Linked DNA regions of Homo sapiens: region 1 is linked to region 2. A link means that fine-mapping ties the variant in region 2 to the expression of a gene that starts in the linked region. Tissue or cell type: whole blood. Region 2 holds a variant in brackets; the other region holds the start of a gene. All regions are shown on one strand. Distances are from middle to middle.

Region 1 (8,000 bases), 140 kb before region 2:
CAGCTTGGTTTCTGTGACTTGCCTTCCCCAGAGGAGGGGTGCCCTGAGAGGTCTCCACTCCCTGACCGGCTCCTTGGTGCCGCGCACTCTGAGAGGCTTCCCAGGGAACAGAGCACACAGGACCGCCCTCCTGGGTAGACCAATCAGCATCTGAGCTCACAATTTCCCAGCAGGGCAGTGGGGTGGAGAGAGAAGCCTGGGCTGGGCTGGGCTGGGCTGGGCTGGGGAAGCTTCTCCGGGCGGGGGGACGTCAGAGCAGGATCTGGGGCTGATAAAAGCCCGCCCCTGGGTGGGGGCTGAGTGGTGCGGAAGCTGAGCCCGACACGTGGGGATGGAGGACAGGCTGTGGGAGGGTGTGAACCGGATACTGCTTGAAGGGGTGCTGGGGACTTTGAGAGAGGGCGGCTGGCCCTGTCTGGTCGGGGATGCTGGCCCAGACACAGGCCATGGCTGGGATGGGGTTCAGAAACAGGACCGCTGTCTCTCCCGGGCCAGGGCCCTCCCCAGCTGCTCCTGGCTTTCTGGTTCTTGGGGTCAGGGGCAGGCCTGTGCCATGACCCCGCCACTGAGGCTGTGAGGAGGCTGTCGGTGCCCAAGGGCACCAAGGCACACCCCTACTCTTGCACCCCATGTGTGGGCCCGAGCACCTGCTCTGCTGCCCCAAAGATCTGGCGATGTTTCCCAGGCAACTGTCTCTCACAGCCTGTCTGCCTGGCACTCCCGTATCCCATAAATGCCACCACATCTGGCTATGGGTGGGCGTGCCTGCCTGGCATCCACGGGCCAGCAGGTGTGGTGGAGCACAGCCCAGTTCCTGGCTGCGTCAGAAGGCTGCCCGGGCCTTTTGGCTGTCCTTGCCAGCAGGTGAGCACTGCCAGGGCACCGTGTGTGGGTGCTGGGCCATTTAGCCACATGGGAAGGGGTGGAGGCAGCCCAGTGCCTTCAGCATGTGCCCAGGGTGCCTGTCGGCCACAGGTCTCATTTGGAAATTGGGAGGGTGCACGGCCACCGGGCTGCTTAGGCCTGCCAGCCTCAGGGCCCGTCACCGCTGTCTTAGCCTGATTTGCAGGGTGTCAGCGCTGGGCAGAGATGAACATTTGGGTGACTCTGAGGATGCCAGTGGCTGGGACACTTGTTCTTCCGCGGTGGAAGGAGTTGGAGAGGCCTGGCTCCCTGACCTACGGCCAGCCTGGCTTCTGAAACCAGCTCAGTGGGCTGGGGCCTGATTCATCATCCATAAATGTGTCCTTTTTTGCCACAGAGGGTAAGGGGCCTCCTAGCCCACCGGTCTGCAGGTGCGGGAGTAGGAGATGGGTGGCTCTGATGCCCCCACCCACTCGATCACCTTCTGCTCTGCCTGGGATGCAAACTCCCACAGCTGAAACGTTCTTTTGTAAACATGAATTTTGGCTTAGAAAAAACTCATTTCCACTGTGCACGTGTCAGTCCCAACCAGAAATTATTTTCCAATAAAGCAAAACTCCGTCACCACAGCAGCAGATGGCTCCGAAGAAGTGGAGCGTTTTCATCAGGTTCAACTTTGAAACCTCCACCATCACCATCACCAGCACCGCTGTGTCATGCTGATAACTTGAGGACAGGCAGGACAAGGTATGTTTGTTGGAGGTGAACATGCTTCCTTGTCTTGAGAGTCTTGAGTGGCCGGTCCCCTTCCAGGCCCTCGGCTGGCAGGCAGCTGTCGGGAAGCTGTCAGGCGGGAGGGGATTGGGGGTCAGGCTTCCTGACAAGTGGAGGCACCCGCCACGTGCCCAGAGCAGAGGTCACCCCAGTGCCTTTCTCTGTGGACTTATCTCTGGCTGTAGGTCACAGGGGCCTGCCCCACTGCCCCCTCCCCAGTGGTGACATGGGAGGAGGGGAGATTAATCCAGAGCAGCAGATAAACTGGAGGGGAAGAGCCCCCAGGAGGACAACTGTGACACGTTGTGCTGCCTCTGCGTCCCCAAAGCACCAGGCCCAGAGGCCCTGCCTTCTGCCCCATGGCACTGGCCTGGGGCCCTGGCTCCTCTTCCCTGGTGGCCAAGGGTAAATGAGGCCCACTGGGGTGGCTAAGACTCAAGGGGATGGGGGCCCCCCAGCTTCAGTGATGCGGGCTGGAGCCAGGCTCAGCCAGCCCTGAGGTCCCCTGCAGGCCCGTGCCTCCTACCCTTGGGGCACCCGCAGCGAGAGCTTCCCAAGCAGCCTGCGCCAGCCGGGCAGCGCAGGTGTCCCGGGTCTGGGTCACTTGAGACCCCGCCCTGCTTCTGCTCGGCTCTGCCCCTCTTGGGCCCAGTGGCCAGGGCACCTGCATGGGGGAGCCGGGAGGGGCTGGAAGGATGCTGAAGACCCCAGCAAAGCTCTAGTGTTTGGCTTTCCAGGGGTGGGGGCTGGGTCCTCCCGCCCAGAAAGGCCCCTGTTCTGGGGCAGCAGCCACACACAGGTGTCCCTCACATGGTCCTCCAGGACAGGGCAGGGGCCTGAGTTTCCCAGGCTCTGCCCAAGGGACCCAGGCAGGGAAGGAGATGGGTCCCAGGGGGCTCGGAGCCCATCCAGAGGCCGGCCGGTCCCATGGCAGGAGGGCACTGGACCATGTGGGGGCCATAGAGGAGGAGGAGGCAGGAGCCACCCCCGGGTCCAACAGCAGAACCCTGGGGTTGGGAGCCAGAGTGGGGAAGGGAGAGGAAGGAGCAAGAACACCCCCCACCACCCCCAGCACGGCACAGAGAGCTGAGCAAACACTTGTCACCAAGGGCTTTTCTCCTCTGTCTTTTTTTGTTTTTCGAGACAGAGTCTTGCTGTGATGCCCAAGCTGTTGTGCAGTGGTGCGATCTTGGCTCACCACAACCTATGCCTCCTAGGCTCAGGTGGTTTTCGTGCCTCAGCCACCCAAGTAGTTGGGATTAAAGGTGTGCACCACCATGCCCGGCTAATTTTTGTATTTTTAGTAGAGATGGGGTTTCTGCATGTTGGCCAGGCTGGTCTCAAACTCCTGGCCTCAAGTGATCCTCCCGACTTGGCCTCCCAAAGTGCTGGGATTGCAGGCTTGAGCCACCACACCTGGCCTATTTTTTTTTTTTTTTGAGTTGGGGTCTGGAGTGCAGTGGCACGATCTTGCCTCACTGCAGCCCCCACCTACCTGGGCTCAGGTGATCCTCCCACCTTAGCCACCCAAGTAGGTGGGACCACAGGCACATGCCACCATGCCCAGCTAATTTTTTATTTATAGAGACAAGGTCTTGCCATGTTGCCCAGGCTGGTCTCAAACTCCTGGGCTCAAGCAATCTGCCTGCCTGGACCTCCCCAAGTCCTAGAATTGCAGGCATGGGCTGCTGGGCCTGGCCTTTTCTCCTGTCTTGGGAGGCTGGGACCAGTCTTCCTGGAAGTACCCAAGGCCCTCCTGCAGACCATGGTGACATTTCCAGGAAAGACCCAGAAGCTCGGAGCTGAAGCCAGGGCAGCCAGGACTGTCGGGGAGCCCTGGACACTGGCTGTCTGAGAGCGCTTGGTCAGCTGGCACCTGCCATGTGGTGGACGTGGGGCTGCAGAGACCCCACGGCTGGGCTTCTCTCGCCTGAGAGCAGGCCCAGCCACAGGCTACCTCCCACAGGGCCCCCTGAGACCACACGGCCTGCAGCAGCTCCCCCAGGCCCCCTCCCCCTGCCCGGGCAGCACTCAGCGCTGCATCTCCATCTGCTCACTCAAGTCGAAGGGCCTGGGGGTTGGTGCCTCCATCTTGTTCTGCTGGGGGCCTCCAGCATCTAGAGCAGGAAGGTGTGCGGAAGAAAACCACTCATGCAGGGAGAGGGGGACCTCCCAGTCCAGGCCCTGCTGCTGACCCTTTCCCTGAACACCAACCTATGGCCTCCAGGCTGGGGCCCCTTGAAGGACGGTGGGCCACTCGGGTGGCCTGGGTTCAGGGCCGGGCTCCACAGCTGAGTTCTGGAGGGAGGGCACAGACGACTGGGGGCTGGGAGGGGCCAGGTGAGGGGTAGGAACAGCCAGGGAGCCCTGCAGGAGGGGTGCCCAGCATAGCCCCAAAGCTGCTGGGGCTGGGCAGGGCAGAAACTGCCAAGGAGTCCCAGAGCCCTGAGTGGCGTCTGGCGAGGGCCCCTGACCCTGATCTCTGTAGACCCCACTCCTTCCGTGAGGGTGGCAGCCACTCCAGGGCCCAGCAGGGCCAAGGGAGAGGCAAGTGGCCTGGGCCCATGGGGCACTGGGCACAGCCAAGTGTGGCACCAGGGTGCCTGGGCGGCTGCTGCCACCACGTGGCCGACTTTGAGGTCGCAGAGCCCGGGGTCCAGGCAGGAAAGCCCCTCAGCTGCCCCCAGGGCCCTGGCCCAGGCCCCTGAGGCCCAAGTGAGCCACCTGGACTTTGTCACTTCGCCTCTGGTTTCTTGGTTAAGGAGCTTGAGTTCCCCGCCTTTTGTAAAGAAACGGTGGTGGCGACGGCGGATTTCAAGCTTTATTTACTCCTGGAATGGTCCTGGGAGGAGAGGCGGCTCCGCAGAGCCGGAAACGGGGGCGGGAGCTGTTGGGTGCAGCCGGGAGGAGGCAGTGCCGGGGCGGGCCGGGCAGCCATCGGGGTAACGGAGGGGGCTCCGGCCCGGGGGCTGCCCGGACGGGAAAGGGGACACGGGCGGGGCTCCCCCACCTGGGCCCCCCACCCTCACGCCAGGCCCCCCTGTGCGGTGCAGGACGAAGGAACCCTGGCCTCAGTTTCCCTACAGGCTGGGATCAGGGCCCCTGGGGTTCCGACTGTCTCGGAGGGGGGCGGCCTCGCTGCAGAGGTCTGGAGGCGGGGCCGGGGCGGGGGCGGGGCCTGGAGGGGCGGGGGCGGGGCTTGCGCTCACTTCCGCCCGGCGCGGGCTTGGATGGAGGCGGCGCGGAGGCCGCGGCTGGGGTTGAGCCGCCGGAGGCCGCGCCCGGCGGGCGGGTGAGGCCGGGAGCCGGGCGGGGGCGCGGCCGGTTTTCCCGCTCCCACGTGCTTCCCGGCGCCCCCGCGGGCCTCCCGCTCTATTCTCCCCCTGGGGAGGGCTCCCTGCCCCCGGGCCCGGCCCCCACGCCCGTCGCCCCACCCCGCGCCGCCATTCAGCGCCCGCCTTGAGCCCCCACCCCACGCCGAGCTTCCCCCGCGCCGCCCCAGGCCCTCCCGCGCCTCTCCCATCATCGCGTCTCCCCTGAGCACCCCCCATCTAACCCTCTACCTTCCCCAGGCCCTCCGCAATCTCCCCAACCATCGCCTCATCCCGCTGAGGACCCCATATTTCCACCCACCCACCCCGCTCCCCCACCCCCAGTACCCCTCATCTCCGCACTGTCTGCCCCAGCAGCCCTTCCCCCAACCCTGCCGGCCACCTCCCGCACCATCGAATTTCCCTCTAGTACCCCCCATCTCCCCGCTCTCTCTGCCCCAGGCCCTCCCGGGTCTCCCCACCATAGCGTTTCCGCTACTGAGTACCCCCTGTCTGCCCTCTCTGTCTGCCCCAGGCCTTCTGGCGGCCGCCCCTGGTTTCTCCTGGGGGGTGATGAGCGGGAGCGGCTCTGGGCCGAGCTACTGCGCACGGTGAGCCCGGAGCTGATCCTGGATCACGAGGTGCCTTCACTGCCCGCCTTCCCAGGACAGGTGTGCCCACTGGGCCCATCTTAGCGATGAAGGGGTTTCCAGGGCGGGAGCCATCGCTGGGCAAGGCCCAACAACTCTGTGTTGCAGGAGCCCAGGTGCGGCCCGGAGCCCACTGAAGTCTTCACTGTCGGACCCAAGACCTTTTCCTGGACACCCTTTCCGCCGGACCTGTGGGGCCCGGGCCGTTCCTACCGGCTGCTTCACGGGGCAGGAGGGCACCTGGAATCCCCCGCCAGGTCCCTGCCCCAGCGCCCGGCACCTGATCCCTGCAGGGCCCCCAGGGTGGAGCAGCAGCCGTCTGTGGAGGGTGCCGCGGCCCTGCGCAGCTGCCCCATGTGCCAGAAGGAGTTCGCCCCCAGGTGAGTAGGCCACCCCTGCGCCCGGCCCGGTTATCCATCCGTGTTTGGAAACCACAGCCGTTCAGAAGGTCAAGAGGTGGCCGAGCTCAGCGCTGGCTTTTAAAGCCCTGTTTCACACTGGAAAGGTGGCCCAGTGCTGTGGCCTGGCATGTCCAGGTGGCTCTCTGTCACGGGTCTGGGGTCCACCTGCTTGCCGTGCTCTGTGGGCAGGGCAGGCTGGGGGCCCACAGAACAGCACAGAAGGAAGGCTGGGAGCACTGGCCCCGGGTCCACCTGGCCATCCTGGAATCTGGTGGCACCAGCGTCCCCAGGCCCAGAGCACAGGAACACCTTCCCGAGAGTGCGTCATGGGTTTTAAAAATGAAGATCGTCTTTTTTGTCTGGAGATGCTTTTTCTTATTTTTGAAACCCAACGTATATTTTTATGTATTTTTTAAGTAAAGGGGAATGGAACCCAGTTTTGCTAACAAGATAACCCAAACTGCCCAGTGCCTGGCCTTGTGTCTGGCGACCTCTGGGCCCTTGGCCTCCGGAGCAGGTCCTGGGGCTGGGGTGGTGTGAATGATGCTGGTTCGTAACTTTTGGTTGAGTTAATGGGCGGCAGGTTTCAGAGCTTATGGAGACCAGGTCCTTCAGTCATGCCTGATGCCCCTGGTCTTCCAGAAGCAAAAACAGCTCGGGAATGCGAAGGCACCGGAGTCCAAAGTTGGCAGCCAACAACAACAACAACAAAAGAAAAGGCCGGGCACGGTGGCTCACGCCTGTAATCCCAGCCCTTTGAGAGGCTGAGGCAGGTGGGTTGCTGGAGCCCAGGAGTTTGAGACCAGCCTGGGCAACATGGCAAGATCCCATCTTTACATGCCTGGGCGTGGTGGCGCGTGCCTGTGGTCCTAGCTACTCTGGAGGCTGAAGTGGGAGGATTCCCTTGAGCCAGGAATTGGAGGCTGTAGTGAAGTATGATTGCACCACTGCACTCCAGCCTGGGTGACAGAGTAAGACCCTGAATCACGGACAGAGGGTACTGTTGGGAGCCCTGGGGAGAAATCCATGCTCTTGGCTGAAGCTCTGAGATCCTTGTTGCTGTCAGGGTGCTGCCCCCCGCCCCCCGGGGAGGGGCTTTTGTCTTTGCATCGCCTGCTTTTCCAGATAGTCTAAAAAAAGACTTCTGAAGACAAGGACGTTCACGAGGAAAAACTTGCCATTTTGAGCTTTTTAAGCAGTTGCTGAAAGCTTGGCAGACTGCCTCAATTTTTCCTAAGTAGGCGTCAATGAAGTCAGGTCCAGGCCTTGGTGTGTCTGGAATGCTTCAAGCACATTCGAACACTTGATCGTAAGGGAGAGCCGGTACTTTGGAACCGGAACTCACCCGAGGCTGTGGCCACCGCATGGGCAGGCTAGCTGGGGGACAAGCCCCATATCTTTGGGAACAAGGGTTTGCACAGCCACCCTGGGATGCCCTGGGACTCCTGACCGCACAGGACCCCAGCAGGGAGGCCGCCTGGATTGGAGGGTCTGGTCTAACAGCCGGACTTGGTCTTGAACCGTCGCCCTGTCCCGCACAGGCGCCTGCTGAGCCTGGAGCCCTGGCAGAGGCGGGTCTGGGGAGTGGAGCTGCCAGGAGGCCTCCCATTTCTCACAGCCTTGGTGTTCTCCGGGTCACCCAGAGGACCGTCAAATGCTGGATTTGACAAACTATGTAGAATGTTCTTTGTGTCTTTAAGATCTTCTTGTGGTCCTATTTGGACATTTTGTGCATTTTCAGACACCTGCGGGTCACGTGGGTGGATGGGAAGCTGGGCACCTGGTGAGGGGTGAGGATGTTGAGAGCCAGAGCTGCGTTTTGTCTCTGTTGATGTGGCGAGGCCCTGGGTTGGTCACTGGGATTTTTTTTTTTTTTTGAGACGGTGTCTCGCTCTGTCGCCCAGGCTGGAGTGCAGTGGCATGATCTCGGCTCACTGCAACATCTGCCTCCCGGGTTCAAGCGATTCTCCTGCCTCAGTCTCCTGAGTAGCTGGGATTAC
Region 2 (8,000 bases):
ATCCAGGACAGAGAACTAGTAACACTCACCAACAAAAAAACCAAACAACCCATTCAAAAATGGACACAGGACGCGAAAAGACATTTCACCAAAGAAGACACAGAAATGGCCAACAAAGCCGGGCACGGCAGCTCACGCCTATAATCCCAGCATTTTGGGAGGCCGAGGTGGGTGGATCACTTGAGGTCGGGAGTTCAAGACTAACCTGGCCAAGATGGTGAAACCCCCAACTCTACTAAAAATACAAAAACTAGCTGGACATGGTGGCGGGTGCCTGTAATCCCAGCTACTCAGGAGGCTGAGACAGGAGAATCATTTGAATCTGGGAGGCGGAGATTGCAGTGAGCCATGATCGTGCCACTGCACTCCAACCTGGGCAACAGACCAAGACTCCAACTCAAAAAAAAAAAAAAAAAAGAAATGGCCAACAGGCACATGAAAAAATGCTCAACATCACTTATCACCAGGGAAATGAGAACCAAAACCACAATGATATGCCACCTCACGCCCATAAGATACTGTCAAAAAACAGAAAACGACAAGAGCTGGAAAGGATGCGGAGACAGTGGCGCTCGTGCACTATTGCAGGGGGTGGAAAATGCTGCAGGCACCATGGGAAATGGCACGGCGGCTCTTTAAACAGAATTATCGGCCAGGTGCAGTGGCTCACGCCTGTAATCCCAACACTTTGGGAGACCGAGGTGGGCAGACTGCTTGAGCCCAGGAGTTCAAGACCAGTCTGGGCAACATGATGAAACCCTGTCTCTACAAAAAGTACAAAAATTAGCTGGGCGTGGTGGCACATGCCTTTAGTCCCAGCTACTTGGGAGGCTGAGACAGGAGAATCGCTTGAGCCCAGGAGATGGAGGCTGCAGTGAGCCGAGATCGTGCCACTGAACTCCAGCCTAAGCGACAGAGCGAGACGCTATCTCAAAAATAAATGAATAAAAATAGAATGATCAATGATCCAGCAATCTCACTTCCGGGTCTACACCCAGAACTGAAGGCAGGGTCTCCAGAGGTCACTGTGCACCCGTGCTCACAGCAGCATCATTCACGACAGCTAAACTGTGGAAGTCACCCGTGTGTCCACTGACAGAAATGGGTAAACAAAATACATCCATACAGCAGCCTGCGGTTCAGTCTTGAGAAGGAAGGAGACTGTGACACAGGCTACGCATGGCTGCGCCTTGAGGACATGGTGCTGAGTGAAATAAGCTGTCACAAAAGGACAGATCCTGTGCGATTCCACTCACAGGAGGCCCCTAGAGTCACCAAAGTCACAGAAACAGAAAGCGGCGGGTGGGTGATGGGGGCTGGGGGAGGCAGAATGGGGAGTGAGTGTTTCATGGAGACAGAGGCTGAGTCTGGGAAGATGAAGAGAGTTCTGGAGATGGGCGGTGATGATGACTGGACAGCAATGCGAATATCGAATACCAGTGAATTGAACCTTTAAATTTTAATGGCTAAGATGGGGACAGGCTCGGTGGCTCACATCTATAATCCCAGCACTTTGGGAGGCCAAGATGGGTAGGTCACTTGAGCCCAGGAGTTCGAGACTAGCCTGGGCAACATGGTAAAACCCCAACTCTACAAAAAGAAAAACTCGGCCAAGTGTGGTGACACACACCTGTAATCCCAGCTACTCGGGAGGCTGAGGCATGAGGACCGCTTGAGCCTGAGAGGCAGAGTAGTAGTAAGCCAAGATTGTACCATGCACTCCAGCCTGGGTGACAGAACAAAACTCCGTCCCCCCTCTGCCAAAAAAAAAAAAAAAAAAGTTAAGATGGCAAAAATAGATGTTATGTGCATTTTACCAGAATAGAAAAAAGATCTGCAGCGCCAAGAATGCCCCATCATGGATGAACCTTGGAAAGGTCAGGCGGGTGAAAGCCACTAGAGGCAAAAGGACAAACATGCAGGATTCCACGGACACCAAACGTCCAGAATCCGCAGGGCCACAGAGACAGAGGCTGAGCGGAGGTGGGGCTGGGGCAGAACAGGGAGTGACCGATGACGGGCACGGGGTTCCCTTTTTGAATATATTTTGGGTTTGTAACTACATAGAGATGATAGTTGTAAGTATACTTTAGAATTTTTTTAAAAATCTATAAAACCAATTCACTCATATAGACACACATAGAATGTGCCAGAAGGTCCTCTGCTGACGGTGAGACAGGCACGTCCAGCCGTCTGAACCAGGCCCACGGTACAGCCGCAGTCCTGCCCTCGTCTGCCTCTGGCGTGCTCCATCCACTGTACACACCTCCCAGTCCGACCCTTCTCACTGACCCTCAGCCTGGGCAGTGCTGCCTGAGGTCAAAAACACCTGTGAACACCCCCACAGGCGCTAAAACCACAGAGCCCCAGGCGGCGGCCACTGGCAACCAGAGCAGGGTGTCCTGTCTGAGATGAGCACCACAGTCAGAGTGAAAGAAAGCACAGGACATCAGGGAGAGCGCCAGCCCCCTAAGCCCTGGTGGCCTGGGACCCCGAGTGGGCAGTGTGTTCTCACACACTCCTGACACTAGCGCCATGAAACCCAACCCACGTCCGGGTGGACATCAGCACACAGGGCAGGGCAGGGCTCCCCACCCCCAGCACCCGCCTCTGACCTCCTCGGCAAAGGCTGCCCCAGAGGCTCTGGCGGAATGTCCCCAACCAGGCTGAGTGGTCCCCGAAGCCGTGGAGCCACCCCTGGTAAACATCTCAAGGACCTACTCACGTGTCCCAGGAGGTCCTTCCTCGGGGCTTGGCCACATTCTCCGCATTCCCCACGGTGACTCGGCTGCCACCCCCATGACACACTCCCCTTCAGAGCTCAGGCCTCTGGACATCCTGTGACCCCCCAACCTCCCCTTCCTCCACTGCAGTGGCCGAGCAAATGCGGGCCTCCCTTCCCTACGCAAGGCCGGCAGGTTGTCCACACGGGCAGAGAGGCAATGCCGAGGTCGTAGACAGAAAGAGCAGACCCCAGGCCCCCAGGCAGGGTTGAGACAAGAGGCAGACATGTCGGAGAAATACGGTGGGC[T/A]TCCCCCGCGCCCAGGGGCTACACTGGCCGCATGTGGATACCTCTGGGAGTGCACAGTCTCAGCACACATGGGACAGAGGAGCACAGTCCTGTCACCAAGTCAAAAAATCACCCAGGTGGCAAATAAACACGGCCCGTGGGTCCCCTCCTATAAAGCAGCAGCATGAGGCTGCAGGGCGCTGTGGAGGGGACAACCATCGTCTCACCCACAGGGAGTATCTGTCCTATTTATGTGTTTATGTATCTATAAAAACGCAGTGAACCGTGCCCTCCCAGGGTGCGTGCTCCAGGGTCCGTGAGGCGTGGGCACCCAGAGGGAGGGTCCCGGGAAAGGTCACCACCAGGGCAGCTGCGTAGGTGATCAGGGCCCTGACGCCCACCGTCTGGCCACCTGCCTCCAAAGCCTCCCCGCCCCCTGCCTCCTCACACTCGCCCTGCGCTGCCAAAACCACCTGGTGGTGTCCGCCTGCCACGGACATACCCCATCTCCTCCTGCCGGCAGGTCCAGCCCCAGACCACCCGCTCCATTCCTGCCAGGGCCCACCTCCGGATGGCTCCTCGGCCTTGCCGGCCACGGTGCAGGGACCCCGGTTGGCTGAGGGCCTGGAACCGGGATGCCACGCCGCCCTCTCCCCGGGCAGATCATGGAAATCCCATGGCTCCTGGGGCCTCCCCTACGCTAAGCGCTGCCAAACCTCTATTCAGCCCCACTTCTCGCTGGAAGCCGAGACTCTCGCCCCCTATGCTAAGCACTGCCAAACCTCTATTCAGCCCCACTTCTCACTGGAAGCCAAGACTCTCGCCCCAACTGCCCACTCACCCTCTTGGCCTGAATCTGCTCCCACCCCCAGTTCCCGCCCAACACAGGGCACTGCCAACACCCAGCATCCAGCCTGAGGCCAGCGAGGTGTGTGCCCTGGCAGCAGGGGTGGGGGAAGCCCTGCCTGAAGGGCACTGAGCCACGTGCCCTGCGCTGGACAGGCAGCGGCCTCGGTCCAGGAGCTCCTGCCCACACAACGAACAAGGCATGGCACGGATGCTGGAGGCCGTGTGGGGTCTGGAGAGTGGGGGTGGAACCCCACCAAGCACAGCCATGGGATGCGCGGCCCGAGAGCAGCGTAGCCACCTGCTCAGGGCCCAACAGTCTCCGGGATGCAGTAGGAAGTGAGGTCAGAAGCTTCCCTCTGAAGCCACAGCCCCCGGGACTCACTCTCCTTCCTCTCCCAACAATGGAGCCAGTGTGGGATGAACGGAGCCCCCACACCAGCTCAGGGGCCAGCAGGGACCAGGAGGAGCAGACGACTGGCCTAGGGGTGGTCGTGAGCTGAGGCAGCCACAAAGGAGCAGTGTCCAGCCTCCCACCTGGCCCCTCCCTCCTAGGGAGACGGCAGGGCACCCCTGGACTTCTCATGCTACCAACCAGCCAAGCGAGTCCCCCGCCATGTGGTGCTGTCAGCCAGAACACGCACAGGCAGCAGCTGCAGTGAAAACCCCACCTGCGGTCACCACGGCTGCTCCTGCCCTGACGCTCCACGAGGGTGAACCTCCGAAAACGGCACCACTGCCACCTCCGTGGCACAACGGATCAACAGTTCAACCCCGTAACATGCGAGACCGGCGTAGGAAACCCCAGTACTCACTGTCTTCTCCCGGACATGGCAGGCCAGGCTGCTCAGGGGTGCTCGGGAAAACTGGACAAGAGAGAGAAAGAGACAGCGTCAAGACCCTGCGGCTGCCACTCAACAGTCTCACGGAGGAAGTCCCGCCTCAGTCAGGCTGAGCACGTGGACTTCACGCAAGGCGCACGTGGCACTGCCAATGAGAGCCCGCTCCTGGGAGACGCAAAACCCCGTGCGTCTACGTAGGCCAGGCTCCGACTTTAAAACCCACGGAAAAACTTAGAGTAAAAGGCAATCAGAGGGACCTGGACAGCAAAGCCATCAGAGGAAGCTACTGATTTGTATTTTTAAACTATATAAAAATGGGAAAGAAATGCAATTACTTTGAACACTGACTTTTAAAAGCACTTTAGATTCCACTTCTTCATACTCAAGACAGAGTTCAAAATTATTTTAACATATATCCTGGGCTTCCACAATAAATTATTAAAATAGGTGCTTAGAAAGTATTAAAACTTGGCTGGACATGATGGCTCACGCCTGCAATCCCAGCACTTTGGGAGGCCGAGATGAGAGGATGGCTTCAGGCCAGGAGTTCAAGACCAGCCTGGCCAACATGACGAAACCCCATCTCTACTTTTTTATGTGTGTGTGTATACACATAAAAGTATTGAAACTTTAAAAAAACAAACATTTTTTGTTTTTTGTTGGTTTTTTTCAGATGGAGTCTCACTCTGTGCCCAGGCTGGAGCTCAGTGGCACAATCTCAGCTCACTGCAACCTCCACCTCTCGGGTTCCAGCAGTTCTCCTGCCTCAGCCTCCCAAGTAGCTGGGATTACAAGTGTACACCACCACGCCCGGCTAATTTTTGTATTTATAGTAGAGATGGGGTTTCACCATGTTGGTCAGGCTGGTCTTGAACTCCTGACCTCAAGTGATCCACCTGCCTCGGCCTCCCAAAGTGCTGGGATTACAAGTGTGTGCCACTGAACCCAGCCCTATTTTTCTTTTATCTAGAAAACAATGTGAATTTTTAAGCCACTGTATCTTTCCACATAGAGAGGCAAAATGTGCTTACTATCACAACCACAATAAAAAGGACTAGATTAGGCACATCTATGAATTTATTTATCTGACACAGGGTTTCGCCCCATCACTCAGGCTAGAGTGCAGTGGAATAATCACAGTTCACTGTAGCCTCTACCTCCTGTGCTCAAGGAATCCTCCCACCTCAGCCTCCCGAGTAACTGGGACTACAGGTGCACCACCACGTCTGAATATCAAAAAAAAAAAAAAAAAAAAAAATTGGGGCCGGGCACCGTGGCTCACGCCTGTAATCCCAACACTTCAGGAAGCTGAGGCAGGCAGATCACCTAAGGTCAGGAGTTTGAGAACAGCCTGGCCAACATGGCGAGACCCCATCTCTACTAAAAATACAAAAATTAGGCCGGGCACCGTGGCTCACGCCTGTAATCCCAGCACTTTGGGAGGCTGAGGCGGGTGGATCACGAGGTCAGGAGATCGAGACCATCTTGGCTAACATGGTGAAACTCCGTCTCTACTAAAAATACAAAACATTAGCCAGGCGTGATGACACATGCCTGTAGTCCCAGCTACTTGGGAGGGTGAGGCAGAAGAATTGCTTGAACCCGGGAGGCGGAGGTTGCATTGAGCTGAGATCGCGTCACTGCACTCCAGCCTGGGCGACAGAGCGAGACTCCAACTAAAAAAAAAAAAAAATTAGCCAAGTGTGGTGGCACATGCCTGTAGTCCCAGCTACTCGGGAGGCTGAGGCAGGACAATCGCTTATATCTGGGAGGTGGAGGTTGCAGTGAACAGAGATAGTGCCACTGCACTCCAGCCTGGGGACAGAGCCAGACTCTGTCTCAAAAAAATAAAACAAGTTTTGGAGAGGGGGGGGTCTCACTATGTTGCCCAGGTTGGTCTTGAACTCCTAGGCTGAAGCGATCCTCCCACCTTGACCTCCCAAAGTGCTGGGATTACAGTTGTGAGCCACCGCACCCGGCCTAGTCTTTAAATTTAGAGCCTCATTGATATAAAGGGCGAAGAAAATTAAGTGTTGTAACCAGGTAGCCCGGTGTCCAGGAGAATGATGGATCTGTCAGAAATCCATGGGTGGTTTCGAGCTTTGGTCCCATCTTGGACTCAATCGTCCATGGCCAGACGCCTGGCAAGGAGCCCAAGCTACGCCAGAAGTGGACACAGAGACAAAGACGTGACCGGCTGGCCACAGCGCTGGAACCACATTCCCAGGCCCCAGACGCCCTGCAGACCCCCAGCAGTACCGGGGAGGAGCCCACGCCCACCTAAAGACAAAGTGGAAATGATCACAATCACATCTCCCATGCGTCAGCTCATCATGGGGCTTTGAACTTAAAGCTGAGGACAGCTGTGAGCCTGGAGCCGGGCCTAGGGAGCACCGGGCAGGTGAGGTGGCTGGTGGGGCTGTCCCCTCTGTCCACATGCGCCGCGGGCCCTACGCTGGCCACTGGAGCCTCTGAGTGGTTTACGGGTTCTTTGTTAAGAGCAGTTTTCATTTGGGTTAATAAAATGTCAAAGAAAAGGCCGGGCGCGGTGGCTCACATCTGTAATCCCAGCACTTTGGGAGGCTGAGGCAGGCAGATCACGAGGTCAGGAGACTGAGACCATCCTGGCTAACACGGTGAAACCCCGTCTCTACAAAAAATACAAAAAATTAGCCGGGCGTGGTGGCGGGCGCCTGTAGTCCCAGCTACTCGGGAGGCTGAGGCAGGAGAATGGCATGAACCCAGGAGGCGGAGCTTGCAGTGAGCTGAGATTGTGCCACTGCACTCCAGCCTGGGCAACAGAGCAAGACTCCGTCTCAAAAAAAAAAAAAAAAAGTCAAAGAAAAAAACCCAAATGGCATTATATTAGACATCCCTAAATTCTCTGGCATCATAGGATTTTAAACCATTTTAAATCCCCCAGCTAGTCGGCAGACACCCACAGCCAGGAACAGCCCCCCAGAGCTGCCCACCACAGACCCCGCCACTAACCATGAATGATGAGGCCTTCATCCCTGCACTGACGGGCCAGGCGGAAAGCCTCTTCCAGCTCCATCTGGGAGGACACCGTGCAAGGGTCACCTGGGTGGGGCAGGAGACGGTGCTGACGTCGCCGAAGGCCCGAGGCAAAGGGGGCTGTGACGAGCCCGCTCAGCACACCAGACAAGGGTCTGGTGGGGGGCAAAGTCCCGATGCTCAGACTGGCCACCTCCTGGCAGGGTCGGGAGGTCCAAGGACGGCCGTCCACACTAGGGAGTCACCTGGCCCCCGGTGCAGCGTCAGAGCCACCCCGGAAGGGAAGT

What was found. PIP is the estimated chance that this variant, and not a neighbour inherited with it, causes the effect.
Region 1: FAAP20 starts here. The variant in region 2 is fine-mapped to the expression of FAAP20 in whole blood (TOPMed, PIP above 0.99).

Annotation. Positions count from the first base shown.
Region 1 is chr1:2,191,618-2,199,617 of GRCh38, reverse strand. FAAP20 (FA core complex associated protein 20) reads left to right here and starts at 4,846. Exons shown (of 4, transcript NM_182533.4): 1 at 4,846-4,930; 2 at 5,485-5,620; 3 at 5,708-5,979. The coding sequence starts at 4,869. LOC112268219 (a long non-coding RNA gene) reads right to left here. Exons shown (of 1, transcript NR_168005.1): 1 at 7,160-8,000. RefSeq lists enhancers at 1-590, 3,212-3,878 and silencers at 4,512-4,991, 5,002-5,091.
Region 2 is chr1:2,056,263-2,064,262 of GRCh38, reverse strand. It overlaps PRKCZ (protein kinase C zeta), which reads right to left. Exons shown (of 18, transcript NM_002744.6): 3 at 7,690-7,779; 4 at 4,672-4,722. Among named protein-coding and RNA genes, the nearest start is that of PRKCZ, 9.9 kb to the right of the region's middle. RefSeq lists an enhancer at 865-1,034. The variant T/A (reference allele first, on the strand shown) is at 3,032.